3 separate regions of the Homo sapiens genome follow, and regions 1 and 2 are each linked to region 3. Evidence: fine-mapped expression QTL. A gene starts in region 3. Each other region holds a variant in brackets. All regions are shown on one strand. Distances are from middle to middle. Region 1 holds the start of FLNC (filamin C). Region 2 holds the start of ATP6V1F (ATPase H+ transporting V1 subunit F). Region 3 holds the start of OPN1SW (opsin 1, short wave sensitive).

What was found. PIP is the estimated chance that this variant, and not a neighbour inherited with it, causes the effect.
Region 1: its variant is fine-mapped to the expression of OPN1SW in skeletal muscle (FUSION, PIP 0.95). The same link has a PIP of 0.9 or more in subcutaneous fat.
Region 2: its variant is fine-mapped to the expression of OPN1SW in prefrontal cortex (CommonMind, PIP 0.95).

The regions. Positions count from the first base shown.
Region 1 is chr7:128,826,622-128,834,795 of GRCh38, reverse strand. It overlaps FLNC (filamin C), which reads right to left and starts at 4,390. Exons shown (of 48, transcript NM_001458.5): 1 at 3,807-4,390. The coding sequence starts at 4,158. RefSeq lists an enhancer at 681-1,324 and a silencer at 4,173-4,334. The variant T/C (reference allele first, on the strand shown) is at 4,357.
Region 2 is chr7:128,857,728-128,865,901 of GRCh38, reverse strand. It overlaps FLNC (filamin C), which reads right to left. Exons shown (of 48, transcript NM_001458.5): 47 at 7,685-7,894; 48 at 6,630-7,566. The coding sequence ends at 7,379. ATP6V1F (ATPase H+ transporting V1 subunit F) reads right to left here and starts at 3,046. Exons shown (of 2, transcript NM_004231.4): 1 at 2,840-3,046; 2 at 55-525. The coding sequence starts at 2,997. The coding sequence ends at 324. It overlaps FLNC-AS1 (FLNC antisense RNA 1), which reads left to right and starts at 3,276. Exons shown (of 4, transcript NR_149055.1): 1 at 3,276-3,377. RefSeq lists enhancers at 2,753-3,242, 3,323-3,432, 7,209-7,709. The variant G/C (reference allele first, on the strand shown) is at 4,200.
Region 3 is chr7:128,771,227-128,779,375 of GRCh38, reverse strand. It overlaps OPN1SW (opsin 1, short wave sensitive), which reads left to right and starts at 3,582. Exons shown (of 5, transcript NM_001385125.1): 1 at 3,582-3,937; 2 at 4,222-4,390; 3 at 4,713-4,878; 4 at 5,488-5,727; 5 at 6,717-6,891. The coding sequence starts at 3,595. The coding sequence ends at 6,836. CALU (calumenin) reads right to left here. Exons shown (of 7, transcript NM_001219.5): 7 at 5,976-8,149. RefSeq lists cis regulatory regions at 3,116-3,585, 2,486-3,585, 1-3,585, 1-3,585, 2,594-3,588 and 1 more.

The sequences.
Region 1 (8,174 bases), 55 kb before region 3:
TTGTCCCTCCATCCCAAGCAACAACTGATCTGCTCTCTGTCACGATAGATTACTTTGTATTTCCTAGAGTGTTATATAAATGGAATCACACAGTATATACTCTCTTTTTTTTTGGTCTGGTTTTTTTCACTCTAGACACTAGGTTTTATCTTTCTACAATGAAGGTCTTAAACATAGTAAGGTCTCAATAAATATTGGTTGAATGAATATTTTAAGAACTGAAATTGGAGTGGGGTAGGACAAGTTTCCACTCACACTCTACCCCGAATGCCAGAAAGGGCTTTAGAAACCAAGGGGTTCTGATAGTGGGGCAGGGGTGGGTGGGTGGGGTCCAGTACATTCTCAGTTAAGTCTTGAAAGTCATGTTGTCAAAGGCTGGGGGCCAGAGGGACTCCAGCCTCAGGAGCTGACACACTCCACCCATCACCTCCTTTGAGGAATCCTTTGAGCCAGAACTGGTTCCTCAAGATTTGGGGGGGGGGGGCGCCTAGATCCCCCTTAACAATCAGAAAGAAATATCCAGAAGCCTGGGGTGGCCTAGCATGTAGATAGATCTTTGGAATTCAGCTTACTTGTAAAGGGCAATGAAGTTCTGAAATCTATCAGCTTCCCAAAGCACTGCTTTCAGGAGGCTGGAAGGGGGTGGAAGACAGTCTTGTTTACTGATGTTGCCCGAGAGATGGGAGAGGGTGGAGTGGAGCCTTCCCCTTACACATCTTCTCCCCTCCACCCTTCCCCAGGTCTTGGGGAAAGTGTTAGGAGACCGAGAGCCTGGGAAATCCAGGGCATCCCCTGCCCCACTCCCACCTGCCCCGGGAGGGGTGCCTCAGTCTCCCTGTCCCTCTGGCTGGGGCTCTGGCCGCCTGGGCTCCCCCACCCTGTCACTGATTCATCCTTCCTTCCCCAGCAGCTCCCCAGCCCACCCCCTTCCCCTGGCTCCACTGCAGCACAATGGTTTGGCAGCTTTCAGATTCCATGACACACTCACTCCCTGCCTCCCGGTGCTTTCTCTCAAACACACAGGCTCCAACACTTTCACACAGTCTGGATGCCCCAGTGCCCCCAGCCTCTCACAACCCCGACAGCCTCCAAAGCTCACACGCCCAGAAGTACTTCTTGCAAACTGGAGCCAGACCCCTGGGCAGGAAGCCTTGAGGCTGCAGGGGTTGGGGGGGGCGGTGTGTATATGGGGAGGGTGGTCATTCATATTTGCTGGAGAGGGAAGTTTCTCCCCAGCAACTGGCCCTGGGCCAGACAGCAAGTGGTCCAGGCTTGGGGCAGGAGAAGGGCAGTGGGGCCCCAAGTCCCACTCTGGAAGCAATGACCTCCCTCTCCCTCCTCCCTCTCGGAGGCCAGGCAGAGGAGAGGAGCTCAGCGCCACCAGGGCTCACCAAGCCACTTCTCCATCTGCCTAGGGATACCCCCAAAGGAGTGGGAGGAGCCAGACAGCTAGTTCCCGAGGCCACCCCAGGCCTCAAATGGAGGGGGAGGAGAGGGCTGGGCCTAGGGAGGTGCTGGGACAGCTGCTGCCCCCTCCCGCCCCTCCCTTGGTTGTTGGCTCCAGGAGAAGGAATAGCAACTGGGGAACAGCTGCGAGACAGAGCTGCCTCATAGGCCTCTTTGTTCGGAGGGAACGAGGGGCAACGGGGGGCCAGGACAAGGTGGTGAGGATATGAAGGGCACAGCTCCTTTAACCTGGGCTCAGTGCCCCTTCTTCAGGTGGGCTTGGATCCCAGCTGCTACTCCAGACCCTGACTTCCCTCCTGGAAAGAGAAGTGGGGAGTCTTTCTGACACCCCCTGAGGTGCCCAGATGCTCGATTTCGGTGCTGAGACAATACTCAGAAGGTGGCCCCATGGATAGCCCCTTTCCACCACTAAATGGAGTAGGGGAGCTAGCAGAAGCAGGATGCCCCTGCCTCGTGGGCAGCCCCTTTGAACCTCCTCATGGTGGGGCGCCCCAGCTGGTCGCTGCCGGTGTCCCCTCCCCTCCAGCCTCAGCCTGGGGCCGGCAGCTGAATTGCTGACAGCTTATCTCATCAGCGCCAGTGAGCCACTTGGCCCAAATGGGGACTGCCTCCCCTTCCTCCCAGCGGGAACCAGGGAGCTTCCCTCCCACCCTCAAACCAGCTTTTGCTTCTTCCCCTCTGCTCTGAGCCAGCCCCTCCTCTGCTGAGCCAAGGGGGCTGGAGCCAGGCACCGCCACGGGGGAGGGGAGAGGTGTGCTCAGGAAGGACGAGGCCTGGAGAGGGGCCGAGAGCCCCCGCAGACTGGAGGGGAGGGGAAGGCTGAGCGGTTTCCTATATGTCTTGCCGAAGCCTCCGGCTCTTCCCCCAGACCCCACCTGGTACAGTCAGTCCTGCCTTTCAAAACCCAGCCTGCTGAGGATGCCGGCCCAGGACTGACTCCTCTCTGACCCCTCAGCCTCCATCACGTAGCCCTCAGTCTCACTACACACTCCAGGCTCCCTCCCCCACCCCCTGCCCTCAGCCTTGTCCTTCTGGAAAGCTCAGAGACATCTGCTGTGTCACGGAGGCAGGGCTATTTCCAGGACAGGGCAGGCGGGTGGGGTGGGGGGGCAGTATTGGGGCAGGAGGGGGTAAGGGCTAGGGAGGGGACTGGACGGGGCAAAGGGCCCTGGGCTGACCTCAGCTGCTATATCAGGAGGCCTAGAGATGGCCCCAAGGGAGAGTGGGGCTGACAGACATCAAGTCATCTGGAGAAATCTCAGGGAACATCCTGTGTGGGGCCCACCTGGCCCCACATGAAACTCCCCTCCTGGGGCCGTGGGGTGCACCGTCCAAGGACCTCGTCCTGCAAATCCCAGCAGGGTTCTTAAGAGCTCTCCACAGGGGTGGGCGGGGGGATCTTCCCCAGGCCCCCAGCCTCAGGGATGACTGCAGGACTCTGAGGGCAGGACAGCCTCCTGCCACTCCAAGCCCACCCTTGGCGTCTCTGCTCCCAAGACTAGAGTGCCTCCCCGCCCCCACCCTGCACTACACACCTTCCAAATCTGGTTACACTCAAAGACTTCCTCCCTTCCACAGGCCTTTCCCTCCCTCCCCGCAGCCCAGACCGTTAGCTGCAGCCAATCCCGCGGTAGGGGGTGGGCTGGGGCAGGGCCTGGACTTGCGGAAGCCCCCTCCACCGCAGGCTGAAGCAGGAGGAGGACAGACAGGGGTTAAGTCTCCCCGCGCTCGCTCAGTGCCTTTTTAGGTTTCTGAGGCTGGGCCCTGCCTGTCCTGGCCCCCGGGCCTGAACCCAGCTGCTGAGCACATGCACGAAGAGGGCCTCCCGCGCCAGCTCCCCTCGGCCCCAGAGCCCGCAGACGCGGGCAGTGGTTGGGGACCTGTCTTCAGCCCTCTCCCAGCCCGCGGAGGGGCTGTGAAGCTGGGAAGCCACTTGTTTTGTTGGGGGCGGGGAGATGCCCCCAGGAATCAGTGACAGGCACTGGTTCTGTCCTCCCGAGTGTGGGCTAGGGTTGCCCGATGGAAGGAAAGGGAACGGTGAGCCGAGGCGGGAGGTGGGAATGTGCATGGGGAGGCGGCAGCTGGAGGGCTCGCAAACCCTAAGGCCTGGACTCCCCGGGGCACCCAGGGAGTGCTCGCTGTCCCCAGAGGGGTGTGCAGGCAGTGCCCATGGCCCTTGTCGATGGGTGGGAGGGCCGGGGCCAGGGTCTTCTCTCTATACCGGGGGGTGCCCTCCGCCCTGTCTCTCAGCTCCCCGCGCGCCCACCCCGCACCTGTGCCCCTGCCCCATGGGACGACCCTATCCCCGCAGCGCCCGTGCCCTCGCCCCCGGCACTGACCTATGGACACGAGCTTGATGTGCTCGCGCTCGAGGAACTCGAGGGCCACGGACACGTTCTCCAGCTTCATTTGGCGGAAGTTGGGGCGCGGATGGAACTTGCGGTACATGCGCTTCTGGCTGAGCACCTCGAGCAGCGCGATGAGCCGGAGCCCGTCGCTGAGGTCGCGCTGCAGGTCGGTCAGGCGCTTGCCCACGCACTTGAGGTGCTCATTGCACCAGCGCGTGAATGTGTTCTGCTGGATCTTCTTCCACGGCGCGTCCTCCGCCAGGTCCTTCTCCGTGGACGGCATCTCGTCTGTCTCATCGCCCAGGCCGAGGCCGGCGTCTGAGTAGCCGCTGTTGTTCATCATGCTGGCGCGGGCTGGGGGTGCGGCCGGGGCTAGGGCCGCGGTTTGGGCTATCGGGGGCTGTCGGGCGCTGTTGGGGCGCGACCACGGGACTCGCTGCGCTGCGCTGCTCTCCTCTCCAACTTCTCTCGCGCCGGGGCTGGCGGGGCTCGGCGAGGCTCGGCGGGCCTCCTAGGCGCTCGGCCGCTCTCTGGCTCTCTC[T/C]CCCTCCAGGGCCGGAGCGGTGCTCGGGAAGGGCGGGCTGGGCCGGGGCGGGGGGTTTAAGAAGCCCCCGGACCGCCGCCCCCCCGCCGCGCCCGCGGCCCCCGGGTCCACGTCAGAGCGCCGGCCTCCCAGGAATGCCGCCCGGCCCGCGGGTGGGGGCCGCGCCGCACAGGACGCCCCGCCCCCGCCGCCCCTCCCCCGCGCCGCCCGGGCGGCGGGACGGGGTTGAGGGCGCCCACCCCCTGGGCCCCCGGTGCCGCCGCGCTGGAAGGTGGCGGGGAGGGCCGACAGTTCTCCATCCACACCCAACACACCAAACTGTCAGGAATGAAATATGCTCCCTCCACACCCCGCACGGGCTGAAGAGGTAAATGGGGAAACTGAGGCCAGTGATTAGGGCAAAACCCACTGATCTGGTGTTCACAGAATTTTCTAGACTAGTTGGTGGCAGGCTGTTGACAGGGCCTGCGAGGGCTGGCTCCTAGCCCAGGGCATTGTCCACCTGTGGACAGGGAAGGGAAGTGTGTGTGCTTGTGCAGAGACGGCCTGAGAGGAAGCAGGGACCTTGCCCGGGCCAATGAAGGAGAAGCCTGCGGGGGGGCGGGGGGTTGTGTGTGCCTCCCAGCCATTGCTTGACTTTACAGATAGAAAAGCCTCATGTAGGGCCCAAATCCAGAGGCCCAGGAGTAAGACCGGGGCCCCTGCCCCTGACTCAGTGTCCCTGTCACCAGCCCGTTTGGCCTCATCGCCTCGGTATGAAGCTGAGCTCAGGAAAAGGGTACCCAGTGACTCACACTGTGTATCCCCCTCCCCCAAGTCTGACTCAACTGAGATGATAAGAGGGGAAGGAGAGACTCTTCCCCCATAGTGCCAGGGAGCCCCCTGGGCAACATGCCCATTTGGGCCACAGGGCAGATCCTGCCAGGGAAAGGGTGGGTCAGCCAGGCAGAAACAGGGAGAGCCCCAGCCAGAGCAGCCAGGGGGAAATGTGACCAGGTGGGTAGGCAGGACCAGGGGCAGAGTGGTCAGGGAGAGCCTAAGGGAGCCAGCTGGGATGCCCAGGCAAAGCTGCACTCAGGGCAAGCCAAAGGCTGCAGGCCTGGGGAATAGAACAGCAGGGAAACCGAGGCACCCAAACAGACTCTGGCCTGGGGTGAGGAGAAAGAGCTAGAGAACGTATTTCTTTTTCTTTTTTCTTTTTTTTTTTTTTTTTTTTTTGAGATGGAGTTTTGCTCTTGTTACCCAGGCTGGAGTGCAATGGCATGATCTCTGCTCACCGCAACCTCTGTCTCCCAGGTTCAAGCAATTCTCCTGCCTTAGCCTCCCAAATAGCTGGGATTACAGGCATGCACCACCACGCCCAGCTAATTTTGTATTTTTAGTAGAAACGGGGTTTCTCCATGTTGGTCAGGCTGGTCTCGAACTCCCGACCTCAGGTGATCTGCACGCCTCAGCCTCCCAAAGTGCTGGGATTACAGGCGTGAGCCACCGTGCTGGGCCTAGAGAATGTATTTCTATAAGGAGAGGATCCATTCTGCAACTTTGTAACATACGTGCAGCCATATCTCCCAGTTCCCCCTTTTTCAAGCCATGTGTCTTCAGCTTTCCCATCCTTCTAGACCTAGTAAGTCTAGCTGAGCTGGCTAGGAGGCCATATCTGAGCCTGAGAAGTTTCTTTAAGCCAGGGAAGGTTCTGGGCCCTTTTAGATGAATCATTATATCTAATTCCTCTTCTACCCCTAGACCTGGTGTAAAAGAAGGGATAGTGAGCATCTTTGGGGGCTCTTTCCCCCAAGGGCCAATGAGGGCACCCCCTGTTACGGAGCTGAGGAAAAAGTGTCAGGGTTCTGTGGGGGCAATGCTTATGATGACAGGGGTCTATGAATGAAATTGCCTGGTCCTTAGGTAGGGAGGGGGAGGAGTAGAGAAGGGACCAGAAAGAGCAAAAGGACCTGCTGTGTGTGGCTGGAGGTGGGGGGAGCTGTGGGGACCCTGATAGTGACAGGCGAGGTATAAATAGCCTGGGCCCTGCGGCTCATGTTCTGTCGGCTGCCTGTGACGAGGTGCTCAGGAATTCCACTCTCCTATTGGCAACCCCTTCTCCCTATCTCTAGAACTCTCATTCTCCCCAAGCCACCTTCAACTCATGGCTAAATCCACCCATCAGGCACCCGTGCTGTCCATACACTTGAGAGGCTGAGCTCTGCTGTGGAGAGAGGCCCCGCTCCTAGGACACGCAGCTGGGCCTCACAAGGGAACTGTGTATGTACAAAGGCCGACTTCTGACAGCCAACCTGATGTGCCAAGGGCTCAGGGTTCAGCAGTGCTGCCTCTGAATCCCTGGTGAGTAAACTGAGACACAGATCTGAGAAAGGATGCATTCCTCTTTGAGCTGCTGGGGAGGAGAAAGGGTTAAGGTGAGGTAGCTCGGAGCTGACAGCCCCTTTACAGACCCTAATGGTCCACAGTCCTGTTTTGCAGGCATTATCTGAGGTCCCCCAGCCAGCTGAGCGCCTCTGTTCAGGTGGAGAGGCCGGAGGAAGCCAGGGAGGGGAGAAGGAACTCCCAGCGTAGCTTCCCTTGCTTTCCCTCTGACTCAAGAGCTCGCTCCAGGGGAGGTCAGTGTGCGGGTCCCAGGGGATCAAGTGAATGGTTGGCAGAGGAGAGGAGGGTACAGAGTGCCAAAGGATGATTCCCGTCACCCCCCGCAACCGTCCTCAGAAACCTGAGCCTGTTGCTCTCCAGGATAAATCGGGGCCTGACTCAGGCCCCAGCAGCCAGTGACACTCAGCCTGACCCAGGCGCGGGCTGGTGACTCAGCCCTCAATATAGCCCATGAGCCCAGGCCCTGGGCCTGGCCAGCCAGGCTGGAACAGACCGTGCACAATGCTGGGCCCGGCCTGCCAAGTAGGGCCCCCTCCCCGAGGAGCGCTGACATGCTCCTCCCCAAGCCAGGCAGGGGCACACAGGGGGTTACAAGGGGTTTCATCAGCTGAGTATCTGGGCAGTGCTGGCTGGGGCCACAGGCTGTTTATAGCCCCCTGACTCACCACCTGCTGACCTATCTCAGGAGACCAGGTTGCCTGGCTCTTCACCTGGTCCTGCCTCTGCCGTCAAGGGGCTCTGCTCATCAGCCACCAATACTGGCCATATTTATCTTGGGCTGAGCTGAATCCAAGTGAGCGGATACAATGAGCCATGTTTGAAAATCCTGTTTTTCTGGAACCAGGGACATTTCCACAGTCACCTGTGATGATACTGGGCTGGCCAGGTCATAACAGGCACTTTCAGTGATACTGATACTGACTGTGGCTCTGACCCAGGTTCCAGGGACAGTGTGGTAGAGTGGAATGATCCATGGGCTGAATTCCAGCCTCTCTACTTCTAGCTCTGCAACCTTGGGCAAGTAATGTAGCTCTTTTGGGCCTGTTTTCTCGTCTTTTTTTTTTTTTAATGTGTGAAAATGGAAGGAAATCACAAGAAAGATGATTAGCATGGTGCCTGGCATCTAATAGGTGATCCAAAACAATTAGTTTGCTTCCTCTGATTATCTTGGAGACTAAGGGGTTCTGGTGAGAGAGGCCTTCCCCTGCAGCTCTGTGTCCACACCTCCGTGGGGACCACTGCCTGGATCTCCAGGCTGTTCCCCTCTCCCCTTCCCTGCAACCCAACATTCCCTCTGCCACAATCAGAACCGGCAGTACCTGTCATCTTTAGAACCACCCACCCTGCCCCAAAAGCAGCTGGTCCTTGACAGGAGTGGCAGCGGGTGGCTGCTCTACCTCTTGGCCTGGGAAGGGAAACCAGACAGGGCTAGG
Region 2 (8,174 bases), 87 kb before region 3:
GAATCTGCCCCATGGCCTCACCCCACACATGTCCTTTCCAGCACCCAACCCATCTGGAGAGAAGCAAGAATATGACTTTAATTTAACATCAACAATGACACTGTGTAACAGCACAGGGAAGAGGTAGTGGAGGGAGATGGTCAGGCTTCCTGTTCCTTAACCAGCAGAGCCCCAGCAACCTAGAAGCGCCTCACCTAGCCTCTTAATGGAGTGGGAAGGAGCAGGGAATTGGAAATCAGAGGCTCAAAAAGTAAAGAAGGCTGATGGCAAGCCTGGGGAGAGGCCTGGAAACGAGGGAAGGGCTGAGGGCTATGAGGAGTCCCCTAGCGCAGGTCTTCGGCAGTGAACATGCCCCTGGCCCTGCGCAGGATGGAGTCCTTGGCGGCGTCATATGGGTGCTCCTTGGAGGGGATCTCCAGGACAGCGGGGATGGACTGCTGGTGGGCGTCCAGGGCATGCCGCACCATCTCTGCGATGTACTGGTTGATGAGGATGATGCCAATGTCATCCCGGTTTAGAAATTGCCTGTGGGGAGAGATGAGAAGGGAGTCCAGGACAGCTCTGGGGGCTGCCGTCTCTCCTACCCAGGCAGCCCTCTCCGAGTTGTTGGGCTGGGCTGTGGAGGGGAATGAGCATGACCCAGAGGGCACAGAGGACAAGGGGAAAGGCTGCCACGCTCAACCCTCTGTCAACCCTACCTAGAATCAATTTCATCCCAAAGCGGAGGGTCACGCTGATTAGGGTTGGCTTCTACAACACTGCCCGGAAGGCTTCCAAGTGAACTGGTAATGAAGATTGATTAGGGTGCACACTGGTGTATTCAATATGCAGTGATGTGTCAGAAAGGGGAAGGATAAGATTATATGTATGCAGATCCCTTTTTATGTGCAGATACTGAAGGCCAGCTGTGATGGCTCACGCCTGTAATCCCAGCACTTTGGGAGGCCGAGGCAGGTGGATTGCTTGAACCCAGGAGTTTGAGACCAGAATGGGCCACATAGTGAGACCCCCATCTCCCTCTCTCTCTCTCTCTCTCTCTATCTATATATACACACACAAAAAAATGGCTGGATGTGGCGGATCTATCTATCTATCTATATATATACACACAAAAAAAAAATGGCTGGATGTGGCGGCATGTGCCAGCTACTTGGGAAGCTGTAGTCCTAGCTATTTAGGAAGCTGAGGTGGGAGAATCACTTGAGCCTGGGAAGTCGAGGCCGCAGTGAGCTGCGATCACGCCACTGCAATCCAGCCTGGGTGACAGGAGTGAGACCCTGTCTCAGAAAAAAAAAAAAAAAAAGACACATTAACTTTTAAAAAGAAAACAAATTATTTAAAAATAGGGCTGATGAGACCACTGAAGGCCTCAAGGTCTATCCTGATGAGGGTGGTGGAGGGGTCAGAGGGAAAGTTTGGCATGAACTAAGATCACAAGCTAGGAAGAGGACACCTTGATGAAGGAATCACACTTTCTGCACAAAAAGAACCTGGCCTTGTGCTCCTTCTCTCCTGTGGTCACCCACCCATTCATTTGTTTATTTTATTTTTATTTTTTTGAGACAGGGTCTCCCTCTGTCACCCAGGCTGGAGTGCAGTGGTGGATCTCGGCTCACTGCAGTCTCCACCTCCCAGGTTCAAACAATTCTCCTTCCTCAGCCTCCTGATTTCTTGGGATTACAGGCACCCGCCACCACGCCTGGCTAATTTTTGTATTTTTAGTAGAAATGGGGTTTCACCATATTGGTCAGGCTAGTCTCAAACTCCCGAGCTCAGGTGATCCACCCGCCTCGGCCTCCAAAACTGTTGGGATTACAGGCGTGAGCCACTGCACCCAGACTCATTCGTTTATTTACTGATTAAAAATTACTTACTGAGCACCCACCCCCTGCCAGTCACTGGGTTAGATTTGATCTCTGAGGTCCCTTTTGGTTGGAAACATAAAAAATTCTTGAAGTAAAATTTGTCCTTCTCCCATGATAACTTGGGTCACTTTACCAGACAGCTTAGAGAATGGCAGATAACAGCCTCCCAGGTCAGGGACTACCTAATACACCAGGCAGCAGGAACCAGTCTCAGCCAGCAGCCCTGGGCTGGACTGTTTGGGGGAAACAGGTGAGTGGTTTATTCCTGAGACTTGGTACAGGGGCCCTGGAGAAGGGGTGAGGAATAAAATAGGAGGCTGGTATCCTTAATTCCAGTCACCAGGACCCCTGGTGGATTAAAAGCATGCCTGCACCCACACTCTGACCTAAGGCAGGCAGTGAGGGCTTGAGTGCAAGGTCTTAGCAGAAGGCTCTCACAGTCCCGACATTTCTGCCTACTGTGCTCAAGACTACAAGGAAATTCCGAGGCCGCCTGAGGAGACCTGCCAAGAGTGTGTACCTGGCTTACCGGAGGCAGAAAGGGTTGAGATTGGGTTCAAATTCTAGCTCTGCCTCTGCCGACTCGTAACTTTAGTGTGTGCCTTACCCTCTCCGAGCTTTAGTTTTCTCACCTGTGAGTAGGACAAAAATCATCCCTGCCTTACGGGACGATGGTGAGCCTCTAAAGGAGGAGAAAGCAGAACAAAGTCCAAGCCCACTGTCTAGGCTGTCACGAGCTCTGTTCCCCTTCTTTCATGACACACGATCATGTGAGGTGGGGGGGCTCGTGGACCTGATACAGCTTCTGTCCCACCGAGCCCCAAACGGGGACTTGGGGCGCGGAGGCCTCCGCTCCGGAAGGGCGGAAGGACTTTCAGGATCGTCCCCTCACCCCCGTCCGGGCAGCCTCCAGCCTCGCCCCGCACTCCACCGAGCAGCAGAAGGGCCCGTTCAGGCCTCGCGCGGTACCGTACCGGAAAGTGTCTTCGATCTCATTGATGGTTGTATCCTTCTCCACCACCAGGAAATTGGGATGGCGGTTCTTGTTAAGCTCCCCTATGCCGCCCAGCAGGAAACCAGTCACCGTGTCCTCGTCTCCGATCACTGCGATGAGCTTACCCCTCCCCGCCATCCCTGCAGCCGGGCAGAGCTCACCCTAGAGCACCAGAAGCCACTGAAACCCCGCCTCCGCCGTACGGCGCCCCGTCGGCCTCAACCCCCACCCTTCGAGCATGCGCAGTCCTCCCAGCCGCATTCCGGGACATGCGCATTAACAGCAACACGGCCTCCATGTGAATACGCCTGCGCCGTAAAGACAGGCCCGAACCAGGGGACTACGATTCCCAGAAGACCGCGCGGCACCACGTCCTTCGCGGGCATTCATTCGTTCATTCACTCGTTCCTTGGTTCATTCGTTCAACAAGCGCTTTGGACCTGACGCTGTTAGACGCCGAGACCCCAGAGAAGAGACGCAGTTACTCATCTCAAGGGCAGGGTCTGGGTCTTTATCGTGTATGTATGTGTGTAACTATGACACATAGTTAACAAGTAACACACGTTTGTTCAGTTAAAGGAATGCAAAAGTTAATGATGATACTGCCTAGTGAGGTGGAAAGTCAAGGGAACAGGCGACTACAAAGCTGTGTGTTAATGGTTAGAATGTGAAAAGTATATGGAAGCACACATCCATGGTAACTAACCCATGGAGAGAGGGGGCGTCCAAAGAACCCTTCCCCAAGAAGCTTGCTTCAGATCTAAGCTGAGACCTGAAGGACCTGCAGGATGAAGGGGATAGAAGTGAGGACAAGACGGTGTTCTAGGCAGAGGAACAGCATGTGCAAAGGCGTACTGACTAGAGAGCGTAGGGCCTTCAAGGAAAGTTAAATAATTGGTAAGGCCAGGCATGGTGGCTCACGCCACACCTGTAATCCCAGCACTTTGGGAGGCTGAGGCAGGTGGATCACCTGAGGTCAGGAGTTTGAGACCAGCCTGGCCAACATGGCGAAAACCCGTCTCTACTAAAAACACAAAAAATTAGCCGGGCGTGGTTGTGGGCGCCTGTAGTCCCAGCTACTCGAGAGGCTGAGGCAGGAGAATTGCTTCAACCCGGGAAGCGGAGGTTGCAGTGAGCCGAGATTGTGCCATTGCACTCCAGCCTGGGTGACAGAGCGAGACTCTGTCTCAAAAAAAAAAAAAAAAAAAAAAAAAAAAAATTAGCCAGGCGTGGTGGTGCACACTTATAGTTCCAGGTACTCGAGAAGCTGAGGCAGCAGGGCTTACTCAGGAGTTCAAGGTTACAGTGAGCTATGATCACGGCACTGCACTTAAACCTGA[G/C]CAGCAGAGCGAGACCCTGTCTAAAAAAAAAAAAAAAGGATCTGCAGGCTGGGCGCGGTGGCTCACGCCTGTAATCCCAGCACTTTGGGAGGCTGAGGCGGGTAGATCACCTGAAGTCAGGAGTTTGAGACCAGTCTGGCCAACATGGTGAAATCCCATCTCCACTAAAAATACAAAAAAAATTAGCCCAGTGAGGTGGTGTGTGCCTGTAGTCCCAGCTACTCGGGAGGCTGAGGCAGGACAATTGCTTGAACCCGGGCAAGGGAGGTTGCAGTGAGCTGAGATGGCGCCACTGCACTCCAGCCTAGGTGACAGAGTGAGACTCTGTCTAAAAAAAAAAAAAAAAAAAAAAAAAGATCTGGAAGTTATCCTGAGGACAGTTATCCTGAAGCTGCTGAGGGATTTCAAGTAAGAGAGTGCTATCGCCAAACTTACGTTTTAGAGCTGTCACTCACTGTTGACTGTGCTGTGTGCAGAGGCGAAACTGAGGGAGGAGAAACCAAATTGGGAGGCCACTGTGAGAGATAATGGTGGCCAGGACTCAGGTGGTGATAATGGGAAACGCAGAGAAGTAGGTAGAGCCGAGAGATATTTAGATATTTAGGACAAAACTGGTTTCAGAGTGGATGTGTTTGGGGAGTGAGGTAGAGAGAGAGACCTGGGTGATTTCCAGGTTTCTGGCCTGTGCAGCACATGGATGGGAGTAACATTGCCAAGAAAGTGACCTCTGTAAGATGAGCAGGCTGAAGGGGAAGGAGCCACTCTTTCCTCCTCCCTTTTAACAAATCAGCACTCCCGGTGTCTGGCATGGGGTTTGTGAGTTTGGAGTGCTTGAGACGTGCCCGTGGTCTGGTCTAGCGATTGTATGTGTGATAAGCTTGGGATTCGGGCACACCTGGGTTTCAATCTGTGCCCCACTACTTAAAGGTACGGTTTCAGACTCATCACTGAAATTCCCAGGGCCTTGGTTTCTTCAGATGGTAGTAGCCCCACCTCATAGGGCTGTTATGAGGATTAATGAGGAAGGGCCTGTAAGGCTCAGCACCCAGGGCCACACTGTGGCTGGCTGGAAGCAGGCAGGCTGGAGGTCTGTGAGCTTATCAGCCACACACAGGTGGAGGCAGCCGAAGCTGAGGGGGAAATTAGCACATCTAGGGGTGAGGGTGAGGGTGAGGGGGGCAGAGAGTGAGGATGGGTGTGTGGGAGGGTGTGAGGGAAGAGGGAGGAAGCACAGAGCCTGGTGAGAGAGGTGGGGAGGTCAGGGATTAGGAGTTGGGGACTCGTGGGTTTTTCTGCCAAGCCCACCACCATGTGCTGAAATGCCCAGGTGGGTCTAGATTGTGGGATCAGTTGAATGAAAGACTTCTTTTCCCTGCTGCAGCTACTCAGCTGCTCATTTATTCATTCATACCCATTCACTCACTCATTCACACCCAGGGCCAGGGAGCTCCATCTGGTGGGGAGCCGTGGATACATGGCCACAGCTCAGGGTCGTAACTGCAACTAGAGATGTGTCCCAGGGCAGTTTGGGAGCTGGGGGCACTGATCCAGGAGGGGTAGGGAGGGGTCCAGGAAAACTTCCTGTTGGCCAGGAAGATGAAGAGGGTGGGGAGGCAAAGGTGTTTCCGGGCAAGGGCCCAAATTACAGCATGGGTGCCCAGAGGTAATGAAGGGGGGTTGGAGGTGGAGGGCACAATGGAGAGTGGGCCTGCTGCCCAACTCATATGGCTGGGGAGGCTGCTGTCTGAACCTGGGTGGCCCTGGAGACCTTGTCAGGAAGAGGAGACTTTACTCTGGAGCAGGAGGGAGTCACAGATGGCCCTAAACCAGAGAGGGGCATATACTATCTTTAAAGTGACCCCCCCGCCAAGCTGCAGCATGGAGGGGAGGTTGGAGGGAGCTGGCCAGGGCAGGGCTGTTGCAGGAGTTCAGGAGGGAGGCCCTGTGCAAGCTTAGTGCTGGAAAGGGGCATGAAACAGGCCAAGTTGATTCAGGAACTGACTAGGGGGAAGGTGCTGAGTCTGCAGGTGGTTCTGCCTGCCTGCTGGTTGAGGAATATTCCTGTTTGAGTCAGTGCTCACTGTTTTAAAGTCTTAATTTGAAAAACATCCTTGAGGTCAAGCTGAACTGAAACTGGCCTCCCAGGGGTCCTGGGACAGTACTGTAGAACACAGTATCCACACCCTGTACTGTCCACGAACCCTCCCGCTGGGACCCCTTCCCACATCCCCGAGCCCCCACCCCCGGTTCTTTCAAGCACTCTGCCAACATCCCAGACCTCACTTCTGCCCCAGGACCTTTCCCTCGACTGGGTCAATCTTCCAGGGAACAGCCAGGCCGCCTCTGCCTCCCCAGGGCCCGGTTTTTCGTGTGGCAGGCCAGAGGGCAGCCAGCCACACAGAGCACACCCCCAAGGAACAGCCAACCCTCTGCGACAGCCGCACTTTATTTGGAGTTTTCCACCTAAGCAGCTCCCAGCTGAGCTGCATGACATGTGCAAAAGTCCCCTAGAAAGCTGGGCCTCGCAGTGTGTAAAAAAGGCCCCCCATGGGGCAGAGCCGTGCAACCATTTTAAAAAAAGAGACAGTGAGAGAGAAATCAGGCCCCCTGGGAGCCTGGCTTGGGTGGAGTGCACATCGCTCAGGCCGGTCCATGTGCCAGGCCACTCCTGCTGGTTCGGGGGCTGTTTTCTTCTCTGATTGTGCTTTCCTTTCCAAGTCCTTAAAACTCTGGGGTTGTAGCCACCAGAGAGACCAGACCAAGTCCTCGGGGTCAGGAGGGTATCTGGCCGGCGGTGCAGTTTGAGGGTGACCTCACACACAGACACCCACAACACAATGCTCCCCCACTGCTCAGCCCCGCCAGAAACTCAGGGCTTCCCTGGCCTCGCAGCCCTCGCCAGCCCCTTGTGTCCCAGCCTCTGCCCCTGAGCCTGGCCCCAGTCGGCCCTCATGTCACATTCCCAGGGAGGGACACTGTCCTGACACAGACAAGGTCCTCCAACCCCTGGGGCGCGGTGGGGTGGGGAGGCTGGGCCTTCACTTCACCCCCAAGGCAGGTGTTTGTAGTGTCTGATTCTGTGCGTGTCTGGGTGTGGCACATTTGTGTGTGTGTGTGTGTGTGTGTAATGTGTGTGTGGCTGGAGGTGGGGGCTGAGGCTGGGGAGGCACTTTTGGGATTCAAGGGACCTTGACTTTGAAGGGGCTTCCAGGGACACTTTCGTCACCCCACTTGACAATGAGGATGTAGTCCCCTTTCTCCTTGACAGTGTAGGTGACATTGTACACCCGGTTCCCCATGTGCTTCACGTACACCTCCTCACAGGGGGTCTTGGGGCCGTGCACGCCCACCATCATCATGTTGGTGCCTGGAGAGGGAGGCAGAGGGACAGGCTCACACCAGGGAGTCCCCTACTGTGACCCACACCCTGCTCCCTGACGGCTTCTTGCTCACACCCCGGGAGACGCCCTCCCCCCGCCACCTGCCTGCTTTGCTGCAGTCCACGGTGAAGGAGTTCTTCTGGCCCACGAAGGCCTGGGACAGCCCAGGGCCCCGAGTCACCACCTTGCTGGCATCTGAGGAGAACTTGGGGATGGAGCTGTAGCTGGAGCCCCGGCTTGAGGAGGACTTGGTCACAGTCTCCACCAGAACCGTGGATGTTTCGTGAAGGCTGTGGCCTCCGGACAGCCTCGGACCTGAGGGGTGGGTGGAGGGGGCACAAACCTAGTCAGAAGGGCTTCCTGTTCTTCCCCAGGCAGGGGACCCTCGGCCAGCACTGCCACCCTGTGGGACTCACTGCCTGCATTTGAGGCTCCCCCTCAAATTCCTCCAAGGGCCACTCTAGGAGCACAGCCTCATTCCCAGCCAGGGCCCTGAGCTGCCAGCTCCAACTGGTGCTCCACCCTAGGGCTGGGGCCTCAGATGCTGCGTCCCTCATCCTTGCAGGCTTTGTCTGGGAACTCAGGCTAACTCACA
Region 3 (8,149 bases):
GTGGGAGGGCACTGTCTGGGAAGGCGTGAGGACAGTATTAGGAGGGGCCAAAGATGTGGCCACCTAGCCTTGTACACTGGATGTAAAAGGGCCCGGGGTGTCTTGCACCCTCGCCATTTAGCCTCCCATCAGAAATGTTTGCAGAGGTGGGCACCTCAGCAGAGCCCAGCGGACAGTGGAGGCTGGCTTGTTCCACGCAGGCCAGGCTCACACACAGTCCATGTGCCCTGCTCAGGGATAGGCACCTTAAGGTGACCTCTGGCCCTGGTCCTGAAGTCCTGCCCAGGGCAACGGATGAGCAGCTCTGCTCATCTGTACAAGGCTAGGTGGCCACATCTTTGGCCCCTCCTAATACTGTCCTCACACCTTCCCAGACAGTGCCCTCCCACCCTGTTCCCCCCATGACTCAGGCAATCTGACTGGACCCTTAGCTGGCTCTCCCCAGTAACCTCCACCAGGACTCCCACCTGCGGCCGAGTGTTTGTGTGGGATGTGCATGTGTGCGCATGCACATGAGAGTGGCGGTCTTTCGGAAATAATTAAGTCAGCTGGGCACAGTGGCTCATGCCTGTAATCCCAGCACTTCGGGAGGCCGAGGTGGTCAGATCACCTGAGGTCAGGAGTTTGAGAACAGCCTGGCCAAAATGGTGAAACCCTGTCTCTACTAAAAATGCAAAAATTAGCTGGGCATGGTGGCACAGACCTGTAATCCCAGCTACATGGGAGACTGAGGCAAGAGAATCACTTGAACCCAGGAGATGGAGGTTGCAGTGACCTGAGATTGGCTCAGATCCTACTGAGGAGATGCTGGAGACAGGAGAGAACTATTTTGTTTTGCTTCAGGTTTCATTGATTTTTCTCCATTCTTTATTCATTTTTAATTTCAATGTTTTCTGCTCTGCTTTTTAGTATCTGCCCCTATTTATTTTAGATTTGATTCACCCTTTCAGCTTCTCAAGGTGAAAGTTTAAATTTTAAACATTTATTGTCTAGTATAAATACTTAAAGCTATAAATTTTTCTCTAAGTACTGCTTTAGCTGACTCCTTCAATTTCTAATACTTTTTTGTTGTTATTCAGCTGAAATTCTTTCAGTTTTTCCTTATGATTTCTCTTTTGACTCACAGGATATTTAGATGTATATTGCTTATTCATAAGTGTTTGGGGGATTTTCCAGATATCTTTTTGTTATTGATCTATCTGTAAGTTCACTGATCCTTTCTTCTGCTGTCCAATCTGCTGTTCAGCCATCTAGTAAATTCTTCATTTGACATGTTGTAGTTTTCAGTTCTGGAATTTCCATTTGGCTATTTTATTTTTCCCATTCTTCTGCTGAGATCCATTAACTCACGATGATCATTTTTTTCCTTCCAGTTCTTGAATATATTTATATCGCTGTTTGAAGTTTTTCCTGCTGGTGCCAACTTCTTGGGTCATCTCAGGTTCTGTTTCTATTGCTTGCTTTTTCTTTTGGCTATGACTCATATTTTCCTGTGGGTTTTTTTTTTCTTTCACACGCCTTTTAATTTTTCATTGTATATTAGACATTGTAGATAGTGAACTTTAGAAACTGGGTTATCTTCCATTGAGGGGTGTTGATTTTTGTTCTAATAAGCAATTAACTTACTAGTTGATCACCTTGAACCCGCTGAGGCTTGGTTTTATCTTTTGCTAGTATGAGTCAGCTTTGGCTTTGACCTTACTCTCAGAACAAATATTTAGTCCTGGGATATAGATTTTAGCTCTATGGTGTGGCCTTTTGGGAGTTTCAAGTAGAAAGCCCTAAGTGTTTACCCAGACCCTCTGACTTGGGATTCAAATTCAAACTCTTTCTCTGCTACAGTGGGTAACAGTCAAAATCTGCTTAGCTCTTTCAGACCTCCAGTGGTTGTCTTTTACTGGGCTCTTGGAAATTCCTCCATCCACAGTTCAGCAGTCAGCCTATGATTTGAGGGGAGTTTATATGCAGATTTAAAGACTTTGCCTTCTGTGGCTTCTTTCATTCCAGGAAATCCACCTTCAGCTGTTCTGGAGTCCCAAACTGTCCTCTGTCTCCTGTCCTCTGTCCTCTGACTCTTCAAGCCAAAAAAGGCTGGGGCTTTCTGCTCAAGTTCTAGCTATCCTGTGCCATTTATACTCGGGAGTACACTCAGGGAAAAAAAAAAACAACAATGTAGATGGTTCTTTTCATTGAAGAGTTGAGTTCCTTTCAGTTTCTGCCTGCTTTGGATACTTTAGGTGTTTTCAAAAAGTTGTTTTTCATATTGTGTCCAGTTTACAATTTTTTTGCCTAAGGGGGCATTCATCTAATAAACTATTCTGCCATTACTGGACCATCCTTTCACTTTTAAACTTACTTATACCTAAAGTGTGTCACTTTTAACTCATCTATATATATAGTCTCGCTCTGTCCCACAGGCTGGAGTGCAGTGGCGTGATCTCGGCTCACTGCAGGCTCCGCCTCCCGGGTTCACGCCATTCTCCTGCCTCAGCCTCCCAAGTAGCTGGGACTACAGGCGCCCACCACCACACCCAGCTAATTTTTTGTATTTTTAGTAGAGACGGGGTTTCACCGTTAGCCAGGATGGTCTCGATCTCCTGACCTTGTGATCCACCCATCTCAGCCTCCCAAAGTGCTGGGATTACAGGCTTGAGCCACCACGCCCGGCCAACTCATCTATATATTTATGATCTGCTGAGGTGGAAAAGATTCATTCATAAAGCCTAAAGTGTAGTACTGAGTACAAGTGCAGGTGGAACTTAAAGCAGAGTTGGTGTCACTGGGGTGGGCTGCACAGAAGAGGTGTTTGTGAGGTAGGCTGTGAGGGCTAGATAAGACTTCAATGAACAGACAGGAGGAAGACTGTGGCGACTTGTTGAGCTAAGGGTAGGGGTAGGCATGAACATGGCGTAAGGACAGTGAACAGACCCACCTCCCTGGCTGGAGGTCTGAGTAGGAAAGGCACACTCTTTGAGTAGATTCAACACAAAGAAATGGAGGCAGCCTGGCTCAGGGATGCCCTAGACCTCTAGGCATTGTCAAGTTGCCTAAGTCCTGTTCCATCAAGGCTGTTTACTGATGTGCTTCCAGGGCACTCCCCACTCCCAGCCCTTTCCTGCAGCCCAGGGCTGGTTCCTAGCCTCTCAGCAGACTTAAGATGGGCACCTTCCACAAAGGGGCAGATGAGTTGAGGAAAACTTAACTGATACAGTTGTGCCAGAAGCCAAAATAAGAGGCGTGCCCTTTCTATAGCCCCATTAAAAGAACAAAAAAGTGGAAGCATCTTCAGTGAATATGGGTCAGCACCTCCCAGACCTCAGGGAGTCCACTTCTGTTCATCCCAGCACCCAGCATTGCATATCCAGATTATTTGAGCCCAATCTCTTATCCTCTGAAGAACACAATCGGCTTTGGGGCCACAAAAGGTTTAGGTAGTGGTTTAGGGATTTCTAATCCCAAACTTTGTCCTTGGGAGGTTTAGGATTAGTATTGATCATTCACAGAGCCCAAGTGTTTTTAGAGGAGGGGTTTTGTGGGGTGGGAGGATCACCTATAAGAGGACTCAGAGGGGGGTGTGGGGCATCCATGAGAAAAATGTCGGAGGAAGAGTTTTATCTGTTCAAAAATATCTCTTCAGTGGGGCCGTGGGATGGGCCTCAGTACCACATTGCCCCTGTCTGGGCCTTCTACCTCCAGGCAGCTTTCATGGGCACTGTCTTCCTTATAGGGTTCCCACTCAATGCCATGGTGCTGGTGGCCACACTGCGCTACAAAAAGTTGCGGCAGCCCCTCAACTACATTCTGGTCAACGTGTCCTTCGGAGGCTTCCTCCTCTGCATCTTCTCTGTCTTCCCTGTCTTCGTCGCCAGCTGTAACGGATACTTCGTCTTCGGTCGCCATGTTTGTGCTTTGGAGGGCTTCCTGGGCACTGTAGCAGGTACTGCAGGGGAAAAAGGGGTTAGGGGAAGGCAAAGGTTGCTACTCCACTGGAGGGGGTTCCTAAAGAGGAGTCTGGGGGAAATGAGTCTGGTGCTTTTTAAAATACTGGGGTACAAAGCAACCCAGACTAGAAGTTTGGCTAAAATAGGATGTTTGAGTCTTCACTCCAAATGTCAGTCCAGCCCTGTCTCTCTGTGCTTGCTCCACCCGATCTGTTTGCCACTCTGCCAGCCAGGCTGGGTGGGGCTCTGTCTAGCCCATTATCCTCACATTTCACCACAGGTCTGGTTACAGGATGGTCACTGGCCTTCCTGGCCTTTGAGCGCTACATTGTCATCTGTAAGCCCTTCGGCAACTTCCGCTTCAGCTCCAAGCATGCACTGACGGTGGTCCTGGCTACCTGGACCATTGGTATTGGCGTCTCCATCCCACCCTTCTTTGGCTGGAGCCGGTGAGAGTGCAGGGCAGTGGTGCTGAGTTAACTAGGAGCTCAGGTTGATGTGGGTGGAAAGAGAGCTTGGGTATAACTATTTAGTCTTTGACCTCTACTTTTAAAGAGTTGCAATATGAGGCGAAAGGGCAGTGGGAGACAAGTGCTAACGTTTACTCTGCAGTTGGAATTGCTGTAGCTTCTCCCAGTCAGGACAGAAAACCCCCCTGCTTGAAGCCTTAGGGCATTCCGTGGGTTCTAAGTGGAGAACACAATCCAGGCATCTCAGCTCCCACTGCACTCTTGTGGAGAGTCCAGTGAGCAAGTGTTTGGTCCTTTGCAGGTTCATCCCTGAGGGCCTGCAGTGTTCCTGTGGCCCTGACTGGTACACCGTGGGCACCAAATACCGCAGCGAGTCCTATACGTGGTTCCTCTTCATCTTCTGCTTCATTGTGCCTCTCTCCCTCATCTGCTTCTCCTACACTCAGCTGCTGAGGGCCCTGAAAGCTGTGAGTGGCATTTGATAGTCAGGGAAGAAGGGGTTCGGGGCTCCACATGAGAAGGAAGAGTGCTCTGAAACATAAGATGCCTGGAAATGTCCATAGCCAGAGAGGGTATCTAAAAGCAGCAAAGGAAGTAGGAGGAGGGAGAATGATGGAGATCCAAAGGAACTAGGCCAGGAGATGGGACAGAAAAGAGGCAATCAGAGTGGATGCCCCCTCCCCCATCCCACAGAAAAGCATCCAGAGACCGGGCGCAGTGGCTCACGCCTATAATCCCAGCACTTTGGGAGGCCGAAGCAGACGGATCACCTGAGGTCAATAGTTCCAGACCAGCCTGGCCTACATGGCAAAATGCTAAAATGCGAAAATTAGCTGGGCATGGTGGTGTGTGCTTGTAACCCCAGCTACTCAGGAGGCTGAGACAAAAGAATCACTTGAACCCGGGAGGTGGAGGTTCAGTGAGCCGAGACTGCACCACTGCAACTCCAGCCTGGGCAACAGAGCGAGACTCGGTCTCAAAAAGAAAATTAAAAATTAAAAATTAAAAAAAAAAAAAAAAAGCATCCAGAGGGCCAGGAAAAAGAGAGATGTGATGCTTTCCGTGCTCCACCCCAGGTTGCAGCTCAGCAGCAGGAGTCAGCTACGACCCAGAAGGCTGAACGGGAGGTGAGCCGCATGGTGGTTGTGATGGTAGGATCCTTCTGTGTCTGCTACGTGCCCTACGCGGCCTTCGCCATGTACATGGTCAACAACCGTAACCATGGGCTGGACTTACGGCTTGTCACCATTCCTTCATTCTTCTCCAAGAGTGCTTGCATCTACAATCCCATCATCTACTGCTTCATGAATAAGCAGGTAAAGCTCTTTATTCACATTCCTATGGTCCAGAAGACCCTGGTTCTTTTCTCACCATTGACTTTTAACTCAGAGCACCCTGGACTCTACCCAGGTTTCTAGTAGACGAGGGAAGCCACAAAACCCCCGAGTAGGTTGGGAAGCCTTTGGTAAGCACAGGGAGGAAGGCACGGTTATCAAGACGAGAAAATAGAACCCCGGAGGAAAGAACTTGAGTCAGGAAAATGAAGTTGCTCCAAAGAACAGGATGAATGAAAGCATTTTATTGAAAAACTCGTGCAGCAAACCACCATGGCACACGTTTACCTATGTAACAAACCTGCACATCCTGCACATGTATCCTGGAACTTAAATAAAATTAAAAAAATAAAAATAAAAACTCAGATTCCTCTCAATTTTCAGTCCTTGCATTTAATAATTTCTTAATCATTTCCCTTCCAACTTTTAGCCTGCACGAGCATGTGTGAAGCACAGAAATCATACCACATGCAAAAATCTCTAAAATATCTTATCATCTGAAGGTACTGGGGGATTTCCTATCCCATCTGAAATCCGAGCTAATAAACACCAAACCCTAAGTGGCAAAAACCCTACTTTCAGATGGTATTGTTTCCTCAATCCCAGAGGTAGACTCAAAACTAATTTGAAACCTCCCTGGATAGAAGAGAATTGGCAGTCCTTTCCAGCTGGGAGCACCTGCTAGTAATGGAGGGGCCTCTGCTGACAGTGCTTTTATGAAGCAGGATGGTTTGTGAATTTACCAACAGTGAGGTCTCAGACTTGACCAGTTTAGGATTACCGTAGACCCAGGAGTAGTTCTAGACTGGAATCTAGATAGTTTTCAGGATGGGGAAGATAGATTCAAAACCACCTAAGGGCATTCTGGGTACAAAGCATTGTGCAAGGCTTTGGTGATACAGAGAATAAGGTCTTTTTTCCCATACTTCCTCATCTGCCAAGGTTATCTCCAATTGTACCTTTCTCTCCAGTTCCAAGCTTGCATCATGAAGATGGTGTGTGGGAAGGCCATGACAGATGAATCCGACACATGCAGCTCCCAGAAAACAGAAGTTTCTACTGTCTCGTCTACCCAAGTTGGCCCCAACTGAGGACCCAATATTGGCCTGTTTGCAACAGCTAGAATTAAATTTTACTTTTAAGTAAGTTTCTATTGTCTCCGTCAGAAACCAAACTACTAAAAACACAAAAAAGATGGTAAAAGGAGTGATGGCAGTTTGGGGAGTCAATTTTTCATTTTCTTACTATTGCCTTCTTGCCTACAAAGCTACTGTTTCCACTGGTCTATTTCAGACCACCCAAAGGCCATTTCAACAATCATCAGTTTCTACTCCTAAGTGGCACCATTCACAGCACTTGGAGAACTGATTTCTACATACAAGGCAACCAAAAAGGAATATGCTTTAAGTTTTCAGTGTATGGATACTTTCCTTTTTAGTAACTTTTTTTTTTTTTCCTGCTGGGGATCCATTCTGAGATGATATATGCTGAATTAGAACAAACTTAAGAAAACACTTTAGAAATGGGAGAGACATAAAGAAAAAACAAAACAAAACAAAAAAAAAAACAAAAAAAACTCAGTGGCCCCAAATATGAGTTTGAAAGAACTTTTGGATAACTGCTACAGCTTTGGCAGGAACAGCCATGTCCACAAGCCCCTGAGCAAGCACAAATTATTCCAGGTGCTTCCTCCCCGTTGCATTTGGCTAAACCTTTATATTTGTCTTAAACTGTGTGTTTACTAAAGTTAATAGTTTAATTCTCTCGAGGTTCTCAAAATGAATTTGCATGTTTTAATAACATTTGTAAACAATACCAAAATGTTAAACAAAATTGTTTTACCTTATGCTCTATAGATAAACGTGTGTGTACATTCAGAATCGCTTGTGTTTGGTATCAGATAATTATATAACGAGCAGCAGGTCTCTCCAGTTATACGGCCTAATGGAAGTAAAAAAGGGTTATGGCTGTGGTGAGAAGGATGCTAGAAAATACCAGAAAACAGGGAGAAAAGAATAATCATTTAGGAGAAGGCAGTGCTGTCTCTGAGTTTGGGAGAACTTCGAGGAGAGTTCCCATTCTGACATTTTAGAGCATCCATAATTCTAAGCTAGAGTTCTATTTCTTGGAAAATGAAGGTCATACATACCCCATAATGAATGTAAACAGTTTTATTTAGAAACAGATAGGTACCTGTTCGCATTGCAGAATATAAAACTTGGTTTACACTCTATAAAAAATAACCAATATCCAAATTCAAGAGAGCTAGCATTCACAGAACACACAATATGGGTGTGTAGCTACTGTTCACCAGCCTCAGGCTTGATTTAAACAAACAAACAAAAAAAAAATTTCAAAGGGATCATTCAAGATGACCGTATAATGCTTGCTGCTGTCTTTGCAG